Linked DNA regions of Homo sapiens: all the other regions are linked to region 3. Evidence: fine-mapped expression QTL. A gene starts in region 3. Each other region holds a variant in brackets. All regions are shown on one strand. Distances are from middle to middle.

Region 1 (2,687 bases), 36 kb after region 3:
ACTGGCCCACTACATTAATCTATGGTGCTAACACGTGCTGTGAACCGTGGGTCAGGGCTGGGGATAAAGTTTGCAACCATTTTTTTGGGGGGTGGGGGAAGAGGAGGGGCCATCTTTTTTGTGCCACAACCATTAGCATCTCCCAAGGTCCTGCTAACCACGGGCAAGAAATGTTGCCCTAGGATAAAGATGGAGGAAACAAATCTTGATGAAATATTGCCTCTGTGTATAAGCTTTGAACTTCTGAACTTAATTCAATGATTTTAATTTAGGTACTCAGAAACAGAAACAACTTTTCATTGGTGGAGAAGCTTGTCTATGGGGAGAATATGTGGATGCAACTAACCTCACTCCAAGATTATGGTATGGGATTTACCTGATAACATTTAAGAATTAAGGTGCCTTAGCTTTCCTTCTCTGTCTAAACACAAAAGTGCTAAACATAAATTTAAACTGCTTGCGGGGGGATGTGTGATTTAAATTTTAGGCCTCGGGCAAGTGCTGTTGGTGAGAGACTCTGGAGTTCCAAAGATGTCAGAGATATGGATGACGCCTATGACAGACTGACAAGGCACCGCTGCAGGATGGTCGAGTAAGAAATCTATTAAGTCCAGTGTGATTTTTAACCTTCTTATTCAGTGTTAGTTTCTTTTGCTATAAATAGAAATGTATGTTACCTAACAAATAGTAATTAGAAGAAACCAGGAATTATTTTTTTGTAAGTAATAATACCTGTAAAGATATATTCAGACTTGTGACTGTTTTATAGATACAAAAAATGTTGGTGTAACTTAGAACTCCATCTTGAGTTGCTTTAATTTTCTTCCCTTATTTTCAGTAATGCTGTGATTTAGTGATTCTAATTTAAGTTTCTAAGATGACATGAATATCAATCTAAAATATCTTTATGAATGATATCAATCTAAATCAATCTAAAATATCTTTATTCATGTTATCTACAGACGTGGAATAGCTGCACAACCTCTTTATGCTGGATATTGTAACCATGAGAACATGTAAAAAATGGAGGGGAAAAAGGCCACAGCAATCTGTACTACAATCAACTTTATTTTGAAATCATGTAAAATAAGATATTAGACTGTTTTTTGAATAAAATATTTTTATTGATTGAACCTTTGACCCTCTATCTTATTACATTTAGAGGCCTGGCATCTTTCTTGTGAGACAAGCTTAAGGACACAAAAGAAACACAACTTTGTGATACCACTCTTCTGAAGGCTACTTATAGTAATAACTTCATAGATGAACAGCATGATTCAGGTACAGTGGCTTTAAACATCAAAGCACATTTCTCATTATATAAATTAAAA[C/T]GGGTGGCTCCAGTGCCACTATCAAAGCTTAAGTTATATCTTTTATCTAGTTCTCTGAATGTACTGAAACAGTACTTTATTCGTCCAATAAATAAAGCAATAAAAATTGTTCTTACTGAAAATGAAGTAGCTAGGTGCTCCTGAATTTCTCTCCAAAAACTAAAACATTTAGGTCAAACCACTTCTCCGGTTGAGCAGTGTATTTTGATCTTGAGGATTCATGGCTTGATAAGTAGATAGTTCTAAGGCAAAAGTAGCTGAGCCTGATGTTAGCGTTCGAAGCACAGTTGAATAACCCTAATCAAAATAATTTAAGTCATTTATATTATCAAATTTAAGCCTCAAGTTTCTCTTCCTGCTGATTATCTTTTGACTATTAGGGAAAAGTGATGTTGCCACTTTTGTGGCTTAGCCATATCACTTCCTCCAAACAGATGATTTAACTTTTTTCAGGGTAAGTTGGATATAAAAACATTGAGGACAGAAAGCAGAGTAGTGCAAGTGTGCTGCAGATGTATTTGTTAGATGGCTTTGCCGGCAACCCAGGTGCCTGTCCTGGAGCAGAAGAGGCTGACGGGAGAAGAATGATAACTTGCCTTAAAACTGACAATGGTGGAAGTAAGATAAATGCTTGGCAGGGAAAAAATGGTCATATAGGCTGGTACCACATTTTGGGACTGTAAATACCCCCTTGTAGTGCTATAATCCCTGGATTTCGCCAACAATTTAAATTCAAAGTCCTAACCATTCCTGCTGGTTGAAACGAAACTTAACATGTATTCTCTAAATCAAAGCCTTAATGTTTCTTTCAGGTTACTGATTGTCTATTCATTGGCATATAATATCCCCTGAATTAAGAAGAATATGTACTTTTCAGTTACAAAGTACCTACCATAATTTCTGCTAAGGGAACAAATCCAATAACAACTTTGTTGTCCTGGCGAGTCTGAATTTCCTGAATGTTTCCTCTTCTTTGTGCCAGATCTGCCAGGACAGGGCTGAGATAATCTCTAGCTACTGTAACCTCAAGATTCATCAGAGGCTCCAAAACTTGCTTATCAGCTTTCTTCAGAGCCTAAAGAAATTAAAGAATGTTAACTTATCTTTCATAAATAAAAACTTAAAATAAATACAGCCTAGAGCTCATACAAAAAGACATAAGCTTGCTTTAACTCTCTCTTTAAAGATAACGTTTTATAAGATGGCAACAACTATAATATTTGCTTGTATAATAAGCATGATAACAGAATTTATAGATCTTTTGTATGGTATGATGCAAGGGGATGTTTATAAAAAATGCCTGTGAACATGTGGTCAGAGTCACAGAAAGTCCTCCCCTTTCAAAGATTCATTTGT
Region 2 (2,687 bases), 140 kb after region 3:
TCCAGGCTGAGAAGGATTTATAAAGTTCAGCTAGTTTTGTGGTAGATAGTGATTACACTTTGGACATGGCCTCATTTTTTTAAATGTATACTTCTTGTTTTTAATCAAAGTCATCCATAACATTGTTTAGAATACAATAGTCATATAAGACTTAAGAAAAAAAAAAAGCAGCTCTGTGACCACTTTCCTGATACACACACATACACACACACACACACACACATACACACACACAAACACACTTTCTACACCCCAAAAGCAACCATTTTGAAGTCATTTAGCTGATATTTTCGGTATTTACTTCTACTTCTCTAAGTAACTTACTATACCTCTTGATTTCTATTTCTTCATTTTTCCATTTTAGGCATAGATAGCTAGAACTTGGAAGGTGAGAATTTAGCTCTTAAATACATTCACACACCCCAATCTCAACTCCAACATAAACACACTTCCCATACAAAAAACCCCAACACCCCTAAATAGTAATTTGTGATTTGTTAGATCAATTTTCAGTATTTACATTATGACTATATAAATGCTTTTGACAACTGAGCCATATAGTGTACCATGAATGTTTATTTTTATCTTTATTCTTACACTTTTTGATTTCCCTTAATAATATTTATTACTATCTCTCTCATCCTCCAAAGTCTCCAGTAACTATGTAAATCTTATCCCAATAAATTCAAATACATCAGGTATTCTATGAACTCTATCTTCTTAAATCAACGTCCCAGAGCTTTGTGATCTGCTCCAATCTAGATCAGTCAATCTTTAGAAAAAGAAATGTCCAAAAGATCATTCTGCAATGATGGAAAAGTTCTGTATCTACTCTGTCCAATGCAGTAGCCACTAGTCACATGTGGCCATTGAGCTCTTAAAATGTGGCCAGCATGACTGAGAAACTGAATTTTAAAATTTAACTTCAACAGCCACATAAAGCTAGTGGTTTTAACAAAGAGCAGCTCCACAACTGACATAGCTGTGATGTTGGATCTCCTTTCTTTTCTCTCTTAGTTTCCTAATCCCATCTTTCCTTCTTGATTTTCTTTATCTTAGGAGAGCACAAACTCTACTCACTTCCAGAAAAGGGGTATATAAAAGGTAAATTGTTTTAAGACTGACAGTCTAGAAATTTCCTTCTTTCACTCTCACTCTTTATTAATTTGACGGGGCACAGAACACACTGGAAATCACTTTACCCTTGGTATCTTAAAGGCATTATTCCACTTCTAGTATTCATGTTGCTGTTGAGAACTCTAGTAACGTTTTGATTCTTGATCTTTTGTCTAAATCATTCTCTCACTTTATGGA[G/A]GCTTTCAAAATCTTTTCTCTATTCCAGATGCTCTGAAATTTCACAATAATCTTGGTATGAGTGTATCTTAATTCATTGTGATGGATGCTCAATGGGCCCTTTTAATCTGGAAATGTGTGTTCTACAGTTCTGAGAAATGTTAGTGAATTATTTTATTGGTGATTTTTTCTCCTCCAATTTGTTCTCTCCTCCTGAAACATGTATTATTTAAATAATCCCTCTAATTTTATCATCTCTTCCTATTTACCATCATTTAGGTTTGTTTTTTGTTGTTTCTGCACTCCTTTCTGATCAACCTCCTCCAACTCTATTGGATTTGTTTTAGTTTCTAAGAGCTCTGTGAACATTCTTGTTCTTATTTCATAAATGCAATGACTAACTTTTCCAAAAATTTTAAGGGCCACATTTTTTGCATTGTCTTCTCCTCCAAATCTCTTTTACTCTCTTTTGCTTTAATCACCATTTTTCACATCAGTGGCCTTCCTTACCTATGACTATCTGTTCATAATTAAGAATGAGATATTAAAAAGCTAATTAGAAGCTCTGTGTGTATGGTGGGGCTTGCTGGCAATGGACCTCACAGCAGGATGATATGGCTGGAGCCTTTCCTAGGGGAACCATTTATATTGGTATTTTTAGTTTCTTTTTTCTTTTGGCCTAGTCAAACTCCTCAAAGGAGACGTTTTTGCTCATGTAGCCATAAAATAATTTTGAAATACCATATATTCACACATCCTTGTGATATCTAAAAATTTTCATCTAAGTTTCAATCAATAATTACAGAAGATGTTATTTCTGACATATTGTTGACTTTTAAAAAACTATTTTAAAAACAATTGTAGACTTATAGAAAAGTCACAAAAACATTACAAAGAGCTCCCATATACCCTTCACCCTAATGTTAACATCCTATATAGCCAAAATACTATTATCAAAACCAGGAAATTAACATTGCTATAATACTGTTAGCTAAACTACAGACTTTATTCAAATTTCACACATTATTCCACTAATGTTCTTTTCTGTTTCAGAATCCAATCCAGAATTCCTTCCTGCATTTAGTTTAATATATCCCTAAACTCTGGTCTTCGATAATTCCTCCATCTCCCCTTGTCACTCATAACCTTGACACTATGGCTGATTGTCAGTTACTTTATAGAATAACTCTCCTAATTTGGCTTTGTCTAATGGTTTCTCATGAATGAACTGAGATCATAAATTTTGGGCAAAAATGCTACAGAATGATACTGTGCCCTTCTCAGTACATCATATATCATGGGATACATGATGTTGATATGTCTTATTACTAGTGATGTTAACCATAATCTGTTGGTTAACATGGTACCTGCCAGGTTTCTCTGTGTAAATTTAC
Region 3 (2,687 bases):
AATCATTACATTTCTTTGAAGTCTTTCCTTAAAGCTCTTCCACCCTCATTTTCAGAATACTTATATAGCAGATCTGTGGTTTTGGTCTGCCTAGCGTTTTCTCCTTCTGGTAAGAGAACACCTCTTCTCCCTTTGGCATCTCCAGTCCGTGTTCGTCATGTGACTTCACTGGCTCTTCCTTAGGGATGGGTTATGAAATCAAACTTGTCAGTTGGGATCCTTTATATCGGGACCCACACAGATGAGCCAAGATGTTCTCTCTCAGGATTCCTTGGGCATGCTCTGCCCCAGGGAGTTCTGATAGGAAGGCTTTATTGACCACAGCTGAAGTGCTGTTACAGAAAAGCCTAGACTTAGGAGCAAATAAACTCAGCTCTCATCTCGGTTATCTGGTGGTTGGGCTGAGAGGAGAAAGGTGCTCCTCAAGCTTGGCTTCTCCAGCTTCACCGAAGCCAGGGATCCACAGGAGAGCGCCCGTGTTGACAGCGTGAGCGGCGACCCGGTGTCGGCCTGGCGTCCCGAGCCTGTGCACTGGGCCGTTTTCTTTTTCTTTTCTTTTTTTTTTTTTTTTTTTTTGAGACGGAGTCTTGCTCTGTTACCCAGGCTGGAGTGCAGTGGTGCGATCTCGGCTCACTGCAACCTCCGCCTCCCGGGTTCAAGAGATTCTCCTGCCTCAGCCTCCCGAGTAGCTGGGACTACAGGCACCCGCCATCATGCTCGGCTAATTTTTGTATTTTTGTAGAGTCGGGGTTTCACCAATTTGGCCAGGCTGGTCTTGAACTCCTGACCTCAGGTGATCCGCCCGCCTCGGCCTCCCAAAGTGCTGGGGCTACAGGCGTGAGCCACCACGTACGGCCAGCACCGGGCATTTTTCTTACTTTAGCCATCCCGTGTTTGAGGTTGCTGTCTGGGCTCTGCTCCTACCCGAGGGCACCCCTGGAGGAAATTCTCGAGGTGACCTGGACAGGGCGGGCTGGGCGAGGACGCTCCCGGGGCCTGGAGGCGGAGTCGGGGGCGGGCGCGCGCAGTCATCTGACTCGGTGACTCACCCGCGGCCGCGCTTCCTCTGATCCGGGCCGGGCGGGAAGTCGGGTCCCGAGGCTCCGGCTCGGCAGACCGGGCGGAAAGCAGCCGAGCGGCCATGGAGCTGTGCGGGCTGGGGCTGCCCCGGCCGCCCATGCTGCTGGCGCTGCTGTTGGCGACACTGCTGGCGGCGATGTTGGCGCTGCTGACTCAGGTGGCGCTGGTGGTGCAGGTGGCGGAGGCGGCTCGGGCCCCGAGCGTCTCGGCCAAGCCGGGGCCGGCGCTGTGGCCCCTGCCGCTCTTGGTGAAGATGACCCCGAACCTGCTGCATCTCGCCCCGGAGAACTTCTACATCAGCCACAGCCCCAATTCCACGGCGGGCCCCTCCTGCACCCTGCTGGAGGAAGCGTTTCGACGGTGAGCGCTCCCGGCCCGGCCGGGAGTTGTCCTGGGGGAGGGGAGAGGCGGACCACCCCGGAGCGCTGTGCAGACCCTCACCACCCCACTGCGCAGACGAGAAACCGCCTGGGAGCTGGCAGGCGATCTGCCCAGCGCCACATGGACTGAACCCACGCTCTTGCCCCCACCCTCCTACTGCTTCTTAAGGGACACCTTGGGTGCTCAGGAACCCTGGTTTGAGAGCCGGATAGTAAGTGGAAGAGGGAGTTTGCTCTGAGGCCTTGTTGGGCAAATGGCATGGACGGAGGGGACACCGGAGCTGGGGAGGAAAGTGACAGCTCCTTATTTGAAGGACGTGCAAAGGGATAAGTTACCCGAAGGGCTTAGACAAGCTCTCTTGAGGGACCAGGAATCCCCCAAAGCTGACTGTCATTTATAGGCCAGTTTCGCCCCCTCACCTCTCCTCACATCTCCTGGTAACAGCTCAAATGGCAGAAGTCCTCAGTTTCGAGCACTGCCTAAAACTGCCCTCTCTCCTAAAATCTCTTCCATATAAAATGTGACATGTTTGCATCTGACTACGTTTCTGCGGTCAGTGGTTAGGCAGTATCCAACTTTGTTTCTCAACACCGATCATGTTGCCTGCTCTCCCTGCTTCCTCTTTTACAGACCCCTAGATAGCGCCTCTGTCTCTCTCACCCTTTGGCTGCAGACAGGGTGAGTTTTGTCATGGGAGTCAGCCAATCACACCATAGACAAGGCAGGTTCCCCTGGGGAGATGTTTGAAGACGCCACACACTGTCCCCTCAGTGTGAGACCTGTGTAGGTGGGACTGTCCTGAAGGCGTATCGTGCCCTGCAGAATTGTAATTTGGTGCTAACTGTACTGCCTCCTGGCATTCCCCAAGCCTGTCGCTGTACCCAGTGGATACTATAGAGCTTAAGTGTGCTTGCAGGACCCTGAACAGGTGGGGAGGGAATGTCAAACTAACTGAATAATGTGTTCTGACCCCAGATAGGACAGGTGCCTAGGCTCAAGCTGCAGAGGCCCAAGATGCTGATGGCAGAAATGGTTCATTCTCTACAATCAGAAGGCTCATGGTTTCCTTCTGTTTTGTACAACTAAATGGGTATTATCAGTCTCTATTTTAGACACACACACTAATGAGCCTTTGGTATCCAATCTGCTAAGGCCAGAGTGGGGTTAAGATGTAGAACCAAAGTGTTTGGTTGCATTGGGATATTCAGAAAGATTGCATGGAAAGT
Region 4 (2,687 bases), 21 kb after region 3:
TTTGTAGCTTAAATGTTTGTTCTTATGGATAGAATCAAAGTGTAAAAATCAGATGTTTATGGTTTTTAATTTTTTTGGCTGTGACTTAGCATTTTACATCCATAAAACTTTTTTTGTTATTGTTATAACGGTTACTGTAATTGTTACTGTGAATATAAACAATCTTGGGGAAGTGTAAATCGAAATTTAACAAGGTAGAAGCCCTGAATAATTCTCAAATTACATATGGTTAAGATAATATATTTATCAAGTTGTCCAACAGTGTATTTGTTTTAAACATAATTGTTTGGAAATCCATAAATGACTATTTTTCTCTCTGAGAAACTACATGAAGTAGGGAATTTTAGAGGTGAGAGTGTTTTCTTAGAAAATAATGGTAGTCTCAGTTAACAGTGTTCAAATTGACTGTATCATGGACCAATGGATCTGGGAGGGACCCTCAGTGTCCCCTAGTTTAATACCCCTGTAATACAAAGAAGGTACCTGACATCCAGAGAAATGATGTGCCTTGTGTAAAGTTGTGGTTAGGAAGGGACAGAGCCAGGACTCTAAATTCTGTCCTCCGGCCATAATTCCAAAACTTTCTCCAATGTTAGGTATGTAGGCTAAAATGTGCTAACAGCACTTGTGTTTTTGTTTCCTTTTGTTTTACTTTTTATTATGGCAAATTTCAAACATATACAGATACAGAATAGTTTAATGAACTCCCATGTTCTCATCATGCCAGTTCAAACATGAATACATGGTCAACCTTGTATCACTTAAACTCCTGCGGACAAGCCCTGCCCCATCCTGTTGTTTTGAATAAAATCCATCATTGTATCTCACTGTAAAAAGGCCTGTTCTTTAAGAAAAAATAACCATAATACATGATTGCAGCTAAAAAATTAAGAGTAATCTAGACAGCTAATCAATATTCACATTTCGGGGGGAGGAGCCAAGATGGCCGAATAGGAACAGCTCCCGTCTACAGCTCCCAGCATGAGCGACACAGAAGACGGGTGATTTCTGCATTTCCATCTGAGGTACCAGGTTCATCTCACTAGGGAGTGCCAGACAGTGGGCGCAGGACAGTGGGTGCAGCGCATCATGCGCGAGCCGAAGCAGGGTGAGGCGTTGCCTCACTCGGGAAGCGCAAGGGGTCAGGGAGTTCCCTTTCCTAGTCAAAGAAAGGGGTGACACACGGCACC[G/A]GGAAAATCGGGTCACTCCCACCCGAATACTGTGCTTTTCCGACGGGCTTAGGAAACGGCACACCAGGATATTATATCCTGCACCTGGCTCGGAGGGTCCTACGTGCACGGAGTCTCGCTGATTGCTAGCACAGAAGTCTGAGATCAAACTGCAAGGCGGCAGCGAGGCTGGGGGAGGGGTGCCCGCCATTGCCCAGGCTTGCTTAGGTAAACAGAGCAGCCGGGAAGCTCCACCTGGGTGGAGCCCACCACAGCTCAAGGAGGCCTGCCTGCCTCTGTAGGCTCCACCTCTGGGGGCAGGGCACAGACAAACAAAAAGACAGCAGTAACCTCTGCAGACTTAAATGTCCCCGTCTGACAGCTTTGAAGAGAGCAGTGGTTCTCCCAGCACACAGCTGGAGATCTGAGAACGGGCAGACTGCCTCCTCAAGTGGGTCCCTGATCCCTGAGCAGCCTAACTGGGAGGCACCCCCCAGTAGGGGCAGACTGACACCTCACACAGCCGGGTATTCCTCTGAGACAAAACTTCCAGAGGAACGATCAGACAGCAGCATTCACGGTTCACGAAAAACCACTGTTCTGCAGACACCGCTGCTGATACCCAGGCAAACAGGGTCTGGAGTGGACCTCTAGCAAACTCCAACAGACCTGCAGCTGAGGGTCCTGTCTGTTAGAAGGAAAACTAACAAACAGAAAGGACATCCACACCAAAAACCCATCTGTACATCACCATCATCAAAGACCAAAAGTAGATAAAACCACAAAGATGGGGAAAAAACAGAGCAGAAAAACTGGAAACTCTAAAAAGCAGAGCACCTCTCTTCTTCCAAAGGATCGCAGTTCCTCACCAGCAATGGAACAAAGCTGGACGGAGAATGACTTTGATGAGTTGAGAGAAGAAGGCTTCAGAAGATCAAACTACGAGCTACAGGAGGAAATTCAAACCAAAGGCAAAGAAGTTAAAAACTTTGAAAAAAATTTAGACGAATGTACAACTAGAATAACCAATACAGAGAAGGGCTTAAAGGAGCTGATGGAGCTGAAAGCCAAGGCTCGAGAACTACGTGAAGAATGCAGAAGCCTCAGGAGCTGATGTGATCAACTGGAAGAAAGGGTATCAGTGATGGAAGATGAAATGAATGAAATGAAGTGAGAAGGGAAGTTTAGAGAAAAAAGAATAAAAAGAAATGAACAAAGCCTCCAAGAAATATGGGACTATGTGAAAAGACCAAATCTACATCTGATTGGTGTACCTGAAAGTGAAAGTGACGGGGAGAATGGAACCAAGTCCTACTCTGCAGGATATTATCCAGGAGAATTTCCCCAATCTAGCAAGGCAGGCCAACATTCAGATGCAGGAAATACAGAGAATGCCACAAACATACTCCTCGAGAAGAGCAACTCCAAGACACATAATTGTCAGATTCACCAAAGTTGAAATGAAGGAAAAAATGTTAAGGGCAGCCAGAGAGAAAGGTCGGGTTACCCACAAAGGGA

Evidence for each region.
Region 1: its variant is fine-mapped to the expression of HEXB in whole blood (TOPMed, PIP above 0.99).
Region 2: its variant is fine-mapped to the expression of HEXB in whole blood (INTERVAL, PIP 0.94).
Region 4: its variant is fine-mapped to the expression of HEXB in whole blood (TOPMed, PIP 0.94).

Annotation. Positions count from the first base shown.
Region 1 is chr5:74,720,156-74,722,842 of GRCh38, forward strand. It overlaps HEXB (hexosaminidase subunit beta), which reads left to right. Exons shown (of 14, transcript NM_000521.4): 12 at 273-363; 13 at 488-592; 14 at 963-1,133. The coding sequence ends at 1,020. GFM2 (GTP dependent ribosome recycling factor mitochondrial 2) reads right to left here. Exons shown (of 21, transcript NM_032380.5): 20 at 2,224-2,406; 21 at 1,051-1,628. The coding sequence ends at 1,500. Among named protein-coding and RNA genes, the nearest start is that of HEXB, 36 kb to the left of the region's middle. The variant C/T (reference allele first, on the strand shown) is at 1,332.
Region 2 is chr5:74,824,507-74,827,193 of GRCh38, forward strand. The region is part of intron 5 of FAM169A (family with sequence similarity 169 member A); the gene reads right to left. Among named protein-coding and RNA genes, the nearest start is that of FAM169A-AS1, 40 kb to the right of the region's middle. The variant G/A (reference allele first, on the strand shown) is at 1,315.
Region 3 is chr5:74,684,120-74,686,806 of GRCh38, forward strand. HEXB (hexosaminidase subunit beta) reads left to right here and starts at 1,114. Exons shown (of 14, transcript NM_000521.4): 1 at 1,114-1,440. The coding sequence starts at 1,142. RefSeq lists a silencer at 802-1,141 and enhancers at 826-1,326, 1,832-1,881, 1,942-1,991, 2,002-2,091.
Region 4 is chr5:74,705,379-74,708,065 of GRCh38, forward strand. The region is part of intron 6 of HEXB (hexosaminidase subunit beta); the gene reads left to right. Among named protein-coding and RNA genes, the nearest start is that of HEXB, 21 kb to the left of the region's middle. RefSeq lists enhancers at 791-1,291, 1,292-1,792. The variant G/A (reference allele first, on the strand shown) is at 1,191.